Linked DNA regions of Homo sapiens: region 2 is linked to region 1. Evidence: fine-mapped expression QTL. A gene starts in region 1. The other region holds a variant in brackets. All regions are shown on one strand. Distances are between the middles of the regions.

The links. PIP is the estimated chance that this variant, and not a neighbour inherited with it, causes the effect.
Region 2: its variant is fine-mapped to the expression of P2RY14 in whole blood (TOPMed, PIP 0.98).

The regions. Positions count from the first base shown.
Region 1 is chr3:151,277,198-151,280,101 of GRCh38, forward strand. It overlaps P2RY14 (purinergic receptor P2Y14), which reads right to left and starts at 1,345. Exons shown (of 3, transcript NM_014879.4): 1 at 1,090-1,345. All of the region lies in intron 16 of MED12L (mediator complex subunit 12L), which reads left to right.
Region 2 is chr3:150,993,002-150,995,930 of GRCh38, forward strand. The region is part of intron 1 of CLRN1-AS1 (CLRN1 antisense RNA 1); the gene reads left to right. Among named protein-coding and RNA genes, the nearest start is that of CLRN1, 22 kb to the left of the region's middle. The variant A/G (reference allele first, on the strand shown) is at 1,658.

The DNA.
Region 1 (2,904 bases):
CTGGCCTCCTTGTTTTTTTTTTTTCCAGACATGACAATATAGAGTTCATTCATATATACCAATGTGTTAATTGTGTGCACACAATTGTATGCATGTTTGTATATATAGTATTCATAAATTTTACCGAAATATAAAATTCATTGCATGTTTACAAATCATAAAATATGCCATTTTGGTATTTTCCGAGTGCATTGTTTTCTTTTTAACTTAATGGCTAGGTTTTTTTTTAGTGCTAAAACTGATTATCAAGTTTGTATGTTTTAGAAAGATGAATATACAAACTATTTATTTTTTTACTAGTGTGATCTTTGATTCATTTTCTCCGTAGGATTGATTGTCCTTGGTTAACAAAGTATATGTAGACAAGATGGATTGCATGGGCTTGGTTGAATAAGCTGACATTGTGGGTCTGTGCTAATTCTCCTGAATGTAATTTAATTTATAATGTTTAAAGAATTGTAAGTAATTTAGCTGATTAGTCATAGACTATAAATAAGTAGCATATGAACTCAAATATTTGCTATGCCTAGGACAGATATTTCTGTGATTTACAATTTAAAGGCATTTTATTTTAGTAGGTGTTAATGGGGTTAACTTATCCTAATAATGACAAAGATAAAAACTTTTACCTATATAAGTGTATGTACAAGTAAATGCAACTATATATCTGTACACATATGCAATTGCAAACAAAGACATACTGACCTAAGTATTATGCTAATCGATTTTGTAGTTTTGAGAAGCAATTTTAATACACATTTACGAGCTTTTGAAATGTTTGTCCTGGATGAATACCTTTTAAACATTTTCCTTGATATCTCTTCATCACAGATATATTTTGACAGCCACGATTGGAAATCCTAAATCATAAATGATAATATTTCAGTATTGGATCCCCATATTAGCATGGGGAAATATATTAATATACCAATTATAGTTGTCAAACAAAAAGTAACCTACTGAGAAAAATGTGAGTGGCAATGGTTCAGTGTTCCTCAGCTTTGTTGCTGCCCAGCTCAGAAATCTTTTCTGTTCCCATGCACCATTCACATACATGCAAGTCATTTCATGGAAAAGCTGTTTTCTTACCTGCGTCTAGGCCTTCATCTGTGAGAGTCATGCTTCACTCATTTTGAAATACCTCTCATTGTAGGCTCCAAGGTAACACTGTTACAGAGTTCTTGCTCATCTTCAACTACGGATGAAAATCAGGAACTTGACAGAAACCACAAGATAGTGGGTCCCTCTGCTGCTGTTGTCAGATAGAATTTATTGAAGACTGGGACGTGGAAACAAAGAGGAAGGAAGAGACGTTTTAATCTCTGTGGGTGTTAGGCTGACTTCTGAGCTAGTTCCTTTCCTCCAGTAATGCAAAAACAGTCCTGCTTTCTTATTTCTCCTCCTACTTTTCCCCACATCCCTACATCATCTGATGCACAGCCAGGCAAAAACCTGTTTTCTTTTCTAACCTTTGCCATTGTCAAATTCAACATGTGGTATGAGGTGGAGAACTGATGTGTAAGATATGGTTCTTTCTGAAGCACCCTCAGAAAATTGTCAGCAGCTTCACAGTATAACGTGCAGAGATGGGTAGTTGGAGCTACCTGGAAATGCGGAATTAACAGAATAAAGAAGTATTTTGACACCAATGTCGACATATTCTAGATAAGAGGTGTTGCATTGTCATTTTTCCCACATTAATTTTCCCATATTTGAACATTACTGATAAATAGATCACAAGTAGGACTTCAGATAAACTCCTCGTGTGTTAACATTTTGGTGTTTGTGCTGTGTTACTATTTTGAAAGTCTTCATATTTTTAGTTCCTTTCAGGCTCTGTAATATAATTGGTGATGTCCTGCAGTGCTCCACTGTCTTTCCCATTGACTATTAGTGCCATTAGATTTGGAAGTTTTCAGAAGATGGCTACAAAGTCCTCTTCAAAGTGTATAACTCAGAACCAGAAAGAAAGAAGACAAGGGGCTGAAAAGCTTACTTTATAAGGTTCCTGCATTTTAAGTGTATTTACTTAGGCTGTTCCATTGCCAAATTATGGGTAACAACTAGTAAAGTTCAGCTTGCCTTAAAAACATAGCTATACATTTAGTTATAATAATTATAACTGGCTTATGACATGCCCGTTACTATTCTAGTTGCTTTATATGTACTTGCTACGTAGGAGGCAGTGTTCTGGACATTGGAGATGGAGTAGTGACTGACACATACCCAAACAGTTATTTCCCTCATGAAGAGTATTTTCTTACTTTCTGTCTCACAGACTTGCTAGTCACTGTTGATCCTTGGCAAAGACCTGTGAGACACAGAGCTTGTTTAGAGAAGTTCGCCATTTCTCCCTGCCAGAGGGACTCTTCTTCAGACCCCCAGCGGGCCCCAATAGTCCTCACTGATGCTTTGATTGAGGGGCTAAGAATACTGATGTGCATAGAGAGGCTTGTTAGCTTCAGCTGCAGTGAGATCTGGTAGGTAAATAAACTTAAGGACAAGTGGATGTGAGGAGGAGCCGCTAGAGCCTGGTTATTACCAGGGCACATTGCAGAGTCCTCCAGATGTAAACATTTTGCTGATTAAATTGATGATTTGGCAGGAACCGTATCTCTAAGGTGCGACTCTCAAGACTTCCCTGATTTATTGCAGGAGATGCTGTTTACTCTGACAGTCTCAAAAACACCCATTAATTGTTCCGGGTCCCTTTTGTGCTTCTTGACTTCCCCGTGGGGTGTTTCACATAGATGTTATTGAGTATGACTGGGGAGAACATGATAATTTGTTGCTTCTTGACTTCCCCGTGGGGTGTTTCACATAGATGTTATTGAGTATGACTGGGGAGAACATGATAATTTCTTTGACTGGAGCTGCTTGCTTGCCTCTTAATGCCAGGAGTTG
Region 2 (2,929 bases), 280 kb before region 1:
TTCTAAATCCTTTGTTGTCATTTCAACAGTGTTTGCAGCATCTTCATGAGGAGTAGATTCCACCTCAAGAAACCACTTTCCTTGCCCATTCATAAGAAGCAACTACTCATCCCATCCTTAAAGTTTTATCAGGAGATTGCAGCAATTCAGCTGCATCTTCAGGCTCTACTTCTAATTCTAGCTTTCTTGCTGTTTTCATCACATCTGCAGTTATTTCCTCCATGAAAGTCTTGAACCTCTCAAAGTCATCCATGAGGTTGGGAATCAACTTCTTCCAAACTTCTATATTAATATTTTGACCCCCTCCCATGAATCATGAATGTTTTTAATGGAATCTAGAATGGCAATTCCTTTCCAGAAGGGTTTCAATTTTCTTTGCCCACATCCATCAGAGGAATCACTGTGGCAGCTATCGCCTTATGAAATATTTTTCTTAAATAGTATGACTTGAAAGTCAAAATTACTCCTTGATCTATGGGTGGCAGAATGGATACTGTGTTAGCAGGCATGAGAACATTCATCTCCTCTACATCTCTATCAGAGCTCTTGGATGACTAGGTCCATTACAAATGAGCAGTAGTATTTTGAAAGCTTTTTTTCTGAGCAGTAGGTCTGAACAGTGGGCTTAAAATATTCAGTAAACCATGCAGTAAACAGATGTGCTCTCATCCTGGCTTTGTTGTTCCATTTATAGAGCACAGGAAGACTGGATTTTGCATAATTCTTAAGGGCCTTAGGATTTTCAAAATGGTAAATGAGCACAAGCTTCAACTTAAAGTCACCAGCTACGTTAGCCCTTTATAAAAGAGACGGCCTGCCCTTTGAAGAGAAGCTTTTTTTTTTTTTTTTTTTTTTTAGATGGAGTCTCACTCTTGCTCAGGCTGGAGTGCAGTGTCGTGATCTCATCTCACTGCAATCTCTGCCTCCCAGGTTCAAGTGATTCTCCTGCCTCAGCCTCCCTGAGTAGCTGGGATTACAGGTGCATGCCACCATGCCCGGCTAATTTTTTGTATTTTTAGTAGAGATGGGGTTTCACCATGTTGGCCAGGCTTGTCTCAAGCTCCTGACCTCAAGTGGTCCACCTGCCTCAGCCTCGCAAAATGTTAGGATTACAGGAATGTGCTACCACCCCTGGCCTGCCCTTTGAAACTTTGAAGCCAGGCCTTGACTTCTCCTCTCTAGCTATGAAAGCCCTACATGGCATTTTTTTTTTCCAACAGAAGGCTGTTTCATTTTCACTAAAAGTCTGTTATTCAGTTTAGTTACCTTCATCAATGATTGTAGTTAGATCTTCTGGATAACTTGCTGTAGCTTCCACATTAGCACTTCCTGCTTCACATTGCACTTTTATGTTCTAGAAATGGCTTCTTTCCTTAAACCTCATGAACCAGCCTCTGCTAGCTTTCAGCTTTTCTTCTGCAACTTCCTCACCTCTCTCAGCTTTTATAGAATTAAATAGAGTTAGGATTTTGCTCTGGATTAGGTTTTGGCTTAAAGGGAATATTGTGGCTGGTTTGATCTTCTATCCAGACCACTAAACAGCAATAAGACTGTTTCACTTTCTTATCATTTGTGTGTGAGCACATGTTGTTGGAAAAATGGCACCAATAGGCTTTCTCAAGGCAAGGTTGCCACAAGCCTTCAATTTGTAAACAAC[A/G]AAATATCAGTGAAGCACAACAAAGCAAAGCACAATAAAATGAGGCATGCCTGTACTTTTTTTTAATGTAGCCAGCCCCAACATTTTCCATATGTAGTAAAAGAACATTCTCTATGTTCATGAATGCTTATGACAAATGAATGATAGAATGAATGAATAAATGAATGCAAAGAGCTCAGACTGGAAAGTAGCAGATATGTGATCTAGTTTTATTTCTGATACTCTGACTGGTTCTCTTTTTTCTCTCATCTTAATTGAACACTGGACATTCCATTTGGCTCTTAAATTATGTAACTTAAATATAATAAATTTTCAGCCAATGATTTCATTAGATACCTGGCTGTAACTCCAGAAGACCTATGAAGAGCCCTAGAGGCCAGCTCCACCTTGGTTCCTCTAATAGTTTCTTTTGCTCCATCGTTTTCTTCAACTTAGCATCTGTGTCACCTTGAACAAGTTGCTTAACTTCTCTACACCTTAATTTCTTCAGCTGCAACATGAGATTCATGATGTGGCTACTTCATAGAGTAGCAGTGAGGATTCGATCAGATAATGTATGTAAAGTGCTTAGAACAATGCCTACGATACTAAACACATAATAAATGTTTAATAAATATTGATGATGGTGATGATGTTTCCTTGATGTTTTTTAGGGCACTTTTCTGCATAGGAGGAAAGTAAACTCTGAGGCTTCCTGTATTCTGTAATGATTAATAAAGTACTGTATCATTGTGTCATATAGAGCTATACAGGCATCGACAAATTCATTTGTTTGCAATGAATTAGACTTCAAAGACGGTGCAATGAACGAAGGCAATTTAAAGGATAGTTTGCGCCCTTTGGAAATGTAGATATTTTAACAAATAGGAACATATGAGTCATATAAACCTTAGAGTGAATGAATTAACTAGCTTTTTTCCTCAAAGCAGTGTTGATGGGAGGAAAAGAATTGGTGCTAAGAGCCTGAGGGGTGGTGGAAAAGGAAGGAAGAGTAATCTGCAAGACTGTCAGGTGTGAAGGGTGTGGGGACTGCAGCAATTCTTGCAAGGTCAGCAGAGTGGGCCAACTTTTTCAGTTGCTGGCTGACCTCAGCCAGGGATTAGGTTCTGTTCAAGGGCAACATTGCTGCAATATCAAGGGGCCATGCTCTGGTTGCTGAAAGCTCATGCCCAGGACTGCTGGCCTGGGTTCTGGCTGTCTGACCATTTACTCTTATTTTCTTTTTATATCTGTCATATTTTCTCAGTCAGCTAGGATTTTTGGTTGCAAGTA